Regions from separate parts of the Homo sapiens genome. Here region 1 is linked to region 2. Evidence: fine-mapped expression QTL. A gene starts in region 2. The other region holds a variant in brackets. All regions are shown on one strand. Distances are from middle to middle. Region 1 has its middle 50 kb from the start of LINC02694. Region 2 holds the start of RASGRP1 (RAS guanyl releasing protein 1).

What was found. PIP is the estimated chance that this variant, and not a neighbour inherited with it, causes the effect.
Region 1: its variant is the best candidate, but not a certain one, in a credible set for the expression of RASGRP1 in whole blood (TOPMed, PIP 0.71).

Annotation. Positions count from the first base shown.
Region 1 is chr15:38,644,094-38,648,488 of GRCh38, reverse strand. No RefSeq gene overlaps it. Among named protein-coding and RNA genes, the nearest start is that of LINC02694, 50 kb to the left of the region's middle. The variant C/A (reference allele first, on the strand shown) is at 2,673.
Region 2 is chr15:38,562,977-38,567,371 of GRCh38, reverse strand. It overlaps RASGRP1 (RAS guanyl releasing protein 1), which reads left to right and starts at 2,558. Exons shown (of 17, transcript NM_005739.4): 1 at 2,558-2,778. The coding sequence starts at 2,744. RefSeq lists enhancers at 1,952-2,141, 1,983-2,494 and silencers at 2,352-2,401, 2,562-2,801, 2,832-3,051, 3,062-3,261.

The sequences.
Region 1 (4,395 bases), 81 kb before region 2:
ACTCCCACCGTGTACTCCTGTTAAAATTTGGAGAAAGCACTGTTCTTGTTCTCCCAGGACCTGGCAGCTCTTCTTCCTAGAGGAGAAAAGCAGATAACATACACAAGCACTTCATTTAGCACAGTTACACAAGAGGCAATTCATTCTCTATACAGAAAGGAAATACGTGTTCACACAGGCCGACACACGCAACCTGGGCTTTGCCCAACACAGACCAGTGATCATCCCTTGTACATTTGCAAGTTGCCTCTTACGCAAAGTTCATCCAGGTACTTTACAAGTTCCTTGTCGGGAGGAACTTTATTTATGTTTTGCACCCTTCATAAATTCTTAGGACATTGTTACATACTCAATAAACATTAGTGGCTGCTTACTTACTAAGTAGGTTTGCTTGGAGTTTAGCTATTAAGAAGCCCTATTTCAGCTGTCATGCCCATTGCAGGCAGTAGCAACAATTACAGAAGCCAAGGAAACTATTCAAAATAAATATTTCCTATGCTTTAGCACCCATTATCCCTCCTCCTTGCAACTCCCCACTGCTGGTAACAAATGAGTCTTTCCCCATCTCAGGAAAACCTGTGGAACCTGGAGAGGGCAGTGAAGAGCTAAATGAGTAATTCTGAAAGAAATTACACAACCTACCTGGAGTATAAGAGATCTACCACAGAATTTTAAATGCTGACTCTTTTTTATTGGATGCTTGTTTAATTTGAGATATTAAATATTCTGCTTGAGAAATGTGTTTTGTAATCACTTTTTATCTTTGGCTATAAATGATATTCCTCTTGTTCTTGATAATGATATCTAATTTAGTAATTTAATTTTCATTCCACCAGACAGGCGTTCCCACACACAATTGAAGTATGCATTTAGAAAGAAACCTAAGACTGAGCAGGTTGGCTCATACCTGTAATTCCAGAACTTTGGGAGGCCAAAGCAAGAGCATCACTTAAAGCCCGGATTTCAAGACCAGCCTGGGAAACATAGTGAGACCCCCGTCTCTACAAAAATATTTTAAAATTACCTAGGCATAACAGTGGTGCACACCTGTAGTCCTAGCTACTCAGGAGGCTGAGGTGGGAGGATCACTTGAGCCTGGGAGTTAGTGATTACAGTGAGCTATGATTAATCAGTGCCACTGCACTCCAGCCTGGGGAACAGAGCAAGATCCTGTCTCTAAAAAGAAAAAGAAACATAATATAGATGCCTTCCTTGGATCCAATTAATATTTACTGAGTGCTCCCTAGATGCCTGACACTTTCACAAACACTATTTTATTTAATATTCTCCCAGACTAGTTTAGTTTTTTCAGCAAACATTTATTAAGCACCTATAGGTGCCAGCATCATACCAGATGCTGGGGATACGTATCAGTCGGGATGGACTTGCTAATGTTGTGGTAACAGACAGTCCCACATCATAGTGACTTAAAACCAAGAAGGATTATTTCACACTCACACTGAACATGCAGCATGGGTTGGCTGGCAATCTGTTCTTCATCTCCATCATGCCCACTCAGAGCCCTGGGTTGACAGAGCACTCACTGCTCTACATTGCTGGTCAGCCAAGGAAATAGCCAAGGGGGTGGGAAGGTCTCAGCTTCTCCGGCCCAGGGTTGGCACAAATCACACTCATACAGAACCAGCCAGATGGCCTCAGGGGGTCAGGAGGTACAATTCTACCACATGCCCAGAAGCAGAGTTCAAAATAGTCTGCAACCAGCATCAAGGACTTAAAGGATGGAAAGTTTAAATGACGTGGTTCTTGCCTTTGGTGGAGCAATCAGTCCAGTTGGGGAGACAGACACATAATTTGAAATTTTCACATCCTCAGTGCCAACAGAAGTCTGCAAAGAGGTATGGGAGCAGAGAGGGAAAGTGGTGAATCCAGATTGGATGTATGGAGGGTAGCAAAGGCCTTGAAAGCCCAAAAAAATGATATTCACAGAGTCAGATGTAGACTCTGCTCATTCAGCTCTGTTCAGAGCGAGAGAATCTCAGCAAACGGAATTTGAGACTTTCAATCATATTGCCAAGGCCAATCCCATTATGAGATAACTGCCTCAGGGGTTATCAGAGCCTGATGCTATTGAACATGCTATTGTTTAAACAATTCCTCTTAGGCTAATTCTGGTGCTCTCTAAGCAAACATCTCCATAGGGATCCTCTTCCAATGTAATGTGAGTCTGCGAATGTACCTATCACTGAGGAATATTTAGGTCCAAAAAAAGTTTTATTTCTCACTTAACTGATGTGCTGACAAATCAAAAATTTGAGCCTGAAAGATTCAGCTCCTTTGTGGAATCACCAAGACAATGTCATGCTGTGAAACCTTATAAGAAAAAAAACAATTACAGGCTCCTTCCCTGGTCAATAGATATGCTCTCTGTATTGCACAGTGGACATGAGACCTAATTCATCTATGAATTTATTTTTTGTTCAATTTTTGAAATATGAGATATTTCAAATACACAAAAGGACCAAAATTATATAACAACATTCCATACACCAACCACCAGATTTGACCTTTTGTTGTTGTTGTTTTGTAGAGACAGGGTTTTGCTATGTGGCCCAGGCTGGTCTCAAACTCCTGGACTCAAGCAATCCTCCCACCTCGGCTTCCCAAAGTGCTGGGATTACAGTCATGAGCCACCATGCCTGGCCCAGATTTGA[C/A]CTTTCATATTTTGAAATATTTTATTTTTTAGAAATAATTCAATGTCTAGTTAGTGTCCTTCTCCAACCCTTTCCCTCCTCTCTCTCCCCAGAGTTATGTCACTTCATACATATTTTTGTGTTTTTATAACATACAACTTATACTTTTATCACAAATAAACTACTGTGTTTTTAAACATTTGACATAAACATAATACATGCTCCTTTTGTAACTGGCTTTTTTCTTCTCAACATCAGCTTTTTCAAGATGTATTCGCATAATTACATGAAAATACAGGCCATGCATTTTAAATTGCTATAATACAGCATCTCTCAATCCTGACTACACATTAGAATTGCTTGGGGAACTTTAGAAAAAAACTGATTCCTGAGATCTACCCCAGGCCAATTCAATCCATGTGATCAATTTTGGTAACAGTTACATTTACCCTTAAAATGAATATATATTTCCTAATTCATGTGTACAGAATTTTATAAATATCCATCATACCTACCATGTTAATCATATTAGTCAAAATTCCTATGCCCTTACCTATTTTTTTGTCTTCTTAATTTATCAATTTCTAACTAATGTATACAATACGATTTCCTATTGTGGTTGTTGATTTGTCGATTTCTCCTTGAAGTTCTTCAGTTTGGGGTTTACATATTTTGAGACCATGTTGCTAGATACTTGCTCACTCAGGATTTTAATTTAAAGTTTTAATTGTAAAAGTTATTCCTATTTATTGCTATAAAATAATCATCTTCATGCATAATGTTTTCATTTTACAGTCTATTTTATTTGATATTTGTGTGAGTCCCGAGCTTTCCTTGTATTAGTATTTTCATAGTATCTCTTTTACCACTATTTTATTTTCAACTTTTTGTGATATTATACTTTTGTATTTTGAAACCATCATATCAAGGTTTTAAAGTCAGTTTTTTCTTTTTTTTTTTTTTTTTTTTTTTTTGACAGAGTCTGACTCTGTTGCCCAGGCTGGAGTACAGTGGTGCAATCTTGGATCTCAGTTCACTGCAACCTCCGCCTCCCAGGTTCAAGCATTTCTTGTGCCTCAGCTTCATGAGTAGCTGGGATTACAGACATGCGCCACCACTCCCAGCTAATTTTTGTATTTTTAGTAGAGACGAGATTTCACCATGTTGGCCAGGCTGGTCTCAAACTCCTGACCTCAGGTGATCTGCCCACCTCCCAAAGTGCTGGGATTACAGGTGTGAGCCGCCCCACCCAGCCTAAAGTCAGTTTTTCTTAAAAGAATCTGAGTCTCTGTATCTGAACTGGTGAATTTAGGCCATTTACATTTATAATGATTAGTGATATATTTATTTGGACCTATTTCTGTAATTCTGTTTTGGGCTTTCTATTTACTCTTTTCTTTTTCTTTTTTTCCCTTAAACTGTTGGATTTATCATATTTTCTATTTCCTCTTTTGCCTTGTTCTGGTTTTAAAGCAATATTTTCTATTTCTATATTTTGAGATTACCCTTAACATTCTTATATATGATTAATCAACAGAAATCTTAATTTAACCAATATTTCTAACTTCTTATAAATAATAGACTATTAAAACATTTTAAATTCAGTAAACTCCTATTCTACATGTAATAGTTTTCTTCTATTTTTAATTCCACCTTGAAATTACATCCCCAAAACTCATTATTTTGTTGATCCTATTATTGTTTTCATTTGTATCACTGCTTATCAATTTATTACTATTTCATA
Region 2 (4,395 bases):
AAGCAGAATCAGATGCAAGTGAAGTGCAGAGTACTCAGAAAGTCCAAGAGAAAAACACTCGCTGGGCATATGTAGGCCTCTTTCTTTAGAAAACTCAGCAAGACTCATGTATTGAATGAATTAATAACCTTGGTTTCAACCATTTGTATATATGTGGACTGTAGGTGTGCAGATGTGTGTAACTGCCTACATGTGCACTTAGTATTATGCATATATGTATATTTACATATAAATATAATGATGCATTTACATAAAGGCATCCATTTGGCATACATACCTATGCATATGCAGTATAAGGCTGGATTATTCCCCTGCCACACACAAAGATTTTGCTGTCCAAAGACTCAGTGCAATGAATGGCATGGAAGGGGCTCTATTTTCAAGGGTGAAGCAATAGAGAAATACCGAAGGCCTCGGATAACCTGTGATGGGGATCCCACGAAAGCCACCGGGGACAGTGCCAGTAAGCTTATCACTCCTGCCATAGACAGCGGACTTCAAAGAAAAACTGAAACCCTTTCTCCGGAAATAATCAGGAAGGATCTTATTTTCTTCTTTGAGGTCAGCACATTTTGCTTTTCAAAATCAAATCCACAGCAGTTCATTAGTAATGTCCCACAGGTACTGCCTCAAGTTGGCAGCTGTGGAAGCTAAAGAAGCATAAGACCTGATTCTTGACCTCGGACAATTTACAGTTTAGCTGTGGAGGTAAGACAGGGACACAGAATATTATGTGGCAATTGAAAGTGTAAATATTATAGATTTAAGTAGGGTAAAGAGCTCATTCTGTAGTAGAGGGGTCAGTGAAAAGTAATTGTTCACCTGGTAATAAGAGAAGATCTCTGTGAACAAAGTCTAAGACTGCAAACTTAGGACTGTTGGGAGATAGTCAGATAGATTCATATATAGATACAAATCTTTACCATCCTCAGACATCCGCCAACTTGGTTGTTTAGGTTGTAGGGCTTACATGAGGAAGGGTGTATAATAGATAACTCTAAAAATGTTTGAGCCTTAGACCCAGTGAGTGAGAAAGAGTGTCATCATTTAATATTCTCCTGACATTCACCTGCCCCTTCTGCATCTGTGGCTGTGACTGAGGACTTGGTTCTTTATATCACCCAGTGTTCATGAGGATTCTCTGGAGAAATTTCTTGCTGGTCTCAGTATCAAGAAAGGGGGATCTTCTCTTGAGCAATTTTGTTTTTGGTCTTGCATGTGATAGGAATTGAACTTTAGACAAGGCCTCTCTTTAAACTTGACTGCTAGAAATGCAGGAGACAAATTTTGGTCCCACCTGTAGCAAGGGTATTTGACTCTATGAGATGCATTTATTTCAAATGATGTTCATTTTTGGCTCCATCTTGTGTGCCTCATTTTTCATTTCACACACTTCTTTTTGTAGGTTATGTGCTCTTGTAAGCTATCTCGAATTCTGTTTTAAGGACAAGGTAGCATATAAATATAAGGAAATATATAAATGAAACAGAGGAAGGCTTTAAAGTCCAGAACACTATGGCCAGGAAGACAACTATGACTGTGGCTAGAGTTATGGTCTGTGGCCGTGATAATGAGTGTGTTATTAGGGCAGTCCAGCAGTGATTACAGGGAGTCAGACAGACCTCAGTCCAAGTCAGAGGTCTCTCTGCTGTTTATTAGTTGTATGATCTAAGGCATAGCATTCTCTAAACCTTCATTTTCTCATCTTTACAACAGTGATCTCTTTGTATCAGGGAGAGTGGATTAAATGAGGTAATGTATAGAAAGCACTTAGCACAACCGCACTCAATCATTAGCTATTGAGATTATCAGCACTATCACCTGGACAAGCAGCGGATGGGCCGCCCCTCTTGGCCAGGTCTTCTGTGCGCACTGACGTTGTATGAAAGTTGTCCCCACATCTCCTACACCCACCGACGCCAGGCGGCCGCGTCTGGGCCAGATATGGATCACGCCTGTGGAGCGCACCTCCACACAGGCAGCCCTCGTCCAAGGTGCAGGGCGCAGGGCACAGGGCACATGTCTACGGCCCAGTCCTGCAGACGGCTACCTAGAGACCCCAGGGCACAGGTTAAGGCAACTTCACAACTGTCTTTCCGTTCCTTTCCCCTGCCGGACTCCGCGCTCTGATATATACAGGAGAGGCCCTGGAGGGGAGAAGGCGTCCTCACTGCAGTGCTCCGAGCAGCGGCCGCAGGAAGAGGCGTGGAAGCTGCGGGTCGGCTGCGGGAAAGGGGGTCCCATGGGAGCCGCTAGGCGCAGCCCGTTTCCCGAGCTGAGGTGGAGGTCGACGGGCACAGGTGCCCTGCAAGGCGCGGGCGTGGTAGCCGGGAGCCCGCTCCTCTCCAACTCCCCTGAGACTTAACCCTTTGGCCAAGAGAGGTCGAAGGCGGGCAGGGGTGAGAGAACCGCGCGAGGCGCAGGCCGGGGCACCCGCGGAAAGGGGGCAGGTTTCGGGGAAGAGCGGCGGGGCGCCGCACGTTTCCTGCAGCCGCCAGCATCAGCGTGTCAGGTGGTTGCCAGGCGGGTGTGAGCGCGCGCGCGAGGCAGAGGGGGCGCGCTCGCACAAAGTTTGTGCCTGCGGTGCACCTCGGTCGGGCTCGCCGGGCTCGAGGGCTGGCGGGCGCCGGGGCTACGAGGCCCGGGGGGGAGAGAGCCGGCAGGCGGCGGCGGTGGTGGCGGGGGCGATGCGCCGCGCCCGGCCGCGCTAGGTGAGCCGGCACCGGGAGCGCGGGCCGCGGCCATGGGCACCCTGGGCAAGGCGAGAGAGGCTCCGCGGTGAGTAGAGGCGGCCGTGGCCCTCGGGAGCGCCTGTGTCCTTTCTTGGGAAAGAGGCCCCTGCCCGTCGCCCCAACACCCCGAGGGAAGTTGAGGGCGGAGGGGGGCCGGGGTCGGCCGGAGTCCCGGGACACCAGCGCGACGGGCGGACGTGTCCAGAACGCCCGGCGCGCTGCGCCCGGGGTTTCGGGGAGGGAGCTGGGGCTGAGGGGTGGTAGAGGGGCGGCCGCGAGGCCAGAGCTCGTCCGGTGAGATCTGCTAGGGCCGAAGCTCTTCGCGGAGCCGGCGCCCGCCCGCCGACTTCCTCCCCCACATCTCCACGCCCGGCATCGGGACTCCCACTCGCGGACTTTCCGCGCTGCCCGCACCTGCTGGGGCGCTGGGCTCCGGCTGCGCCACCTGGTGGCCCCTCCCGGCCCTGCCCAGAACGGCCGAGGAGCTTGCAGGGAGCCCGCAGAGGTGGCACCCCTCGGTTGCCCCTGCCCCACGGAAGTTTCCAGATCCGTGGGTCAGGGAAACATATCGCCTTCCGTATGGGAAGCTGCACTCCTCTCCCCCTCACTATGATTCTATAGAGGGTCTTGGATAACAGAAGTTGAAGAAAGAGGGACAGTGAGTGAAAGGGCTCTTGGCCAGGCAGCTTTGAGTTTGTAGCCAAAGGACCAGAACTAGGCAACTGCATGAACAAAGGCCTGGCCTCGGCGTAGGGGCTGGACAAGTTGTGCACTTCACAACTCCATTCACATCGACACTGATGGGACTGTGCCTTGCACCACCATACCCAGTAGCGGCAGGAAGCTTGCGATGCTGGACTTCCCGTGCTTATAATCCCAGGAACGAAGGATTCTTGGCCCTGTATGCACGCCCTGCCTCTCCCCATCCAGGTATCCCCTGAGGGTCCACCACTGTACTTTGCACTAGATTCAGAAGGAGGAGTTCAGTACATTAAATTGAGTATTGTAAGGGGAAGAGGACGGGACTGGAAGGAATCCATACTAGAAGTCAAGAGAGTCACCTTCCACTGCAAAGAAAGTTGTGGAAGTTCCAGTTCCCTTGCTCCATTTCATCTCTTACTTTTCTAGGCGGATTTCATAAAAAGCTCAGCCTGAAACTGACCTCCACTGAGATACCTATGCCTGGAGAGGATTTCACCTAAACCAGTTTAGAGTTTTGACGGTCTCCTTCAGCAAACCTATGGGGCTTTGGTTACTTTTAGGCTTGGAAAACACCTTCAAGTTAATTTGTTTCTCTCGGGGTTTTGGTTTTTTCATTTACAGGAAAACATTTGGCTACTGTATTTTTTTAAAAAATATGCCTTTACAGACTCAGAGGCCATTCATTCTATGGATTGTTAAAACACCTTCGACCTGCCTATAATAGAGCATTTTATAAATCCTTGTCTACTCCCATTTCACCAGAAAAGGCAGAACGATTTGAGGATTTTTCACAAGGCAACCAGTTAAGAGACTGTACAGCAAGAAAGCCAGGTTTCCTAGTCTATGGTGCAGATAATCCCCATCTTCTTAGAACTCTGAGGCTGCACTTTGGCTTTTAGTACTTTCTCTTCTCCCTGTTCTCTCATGGCCTAGTCCTCTGAGTCTCTCTGGGCTCCATACT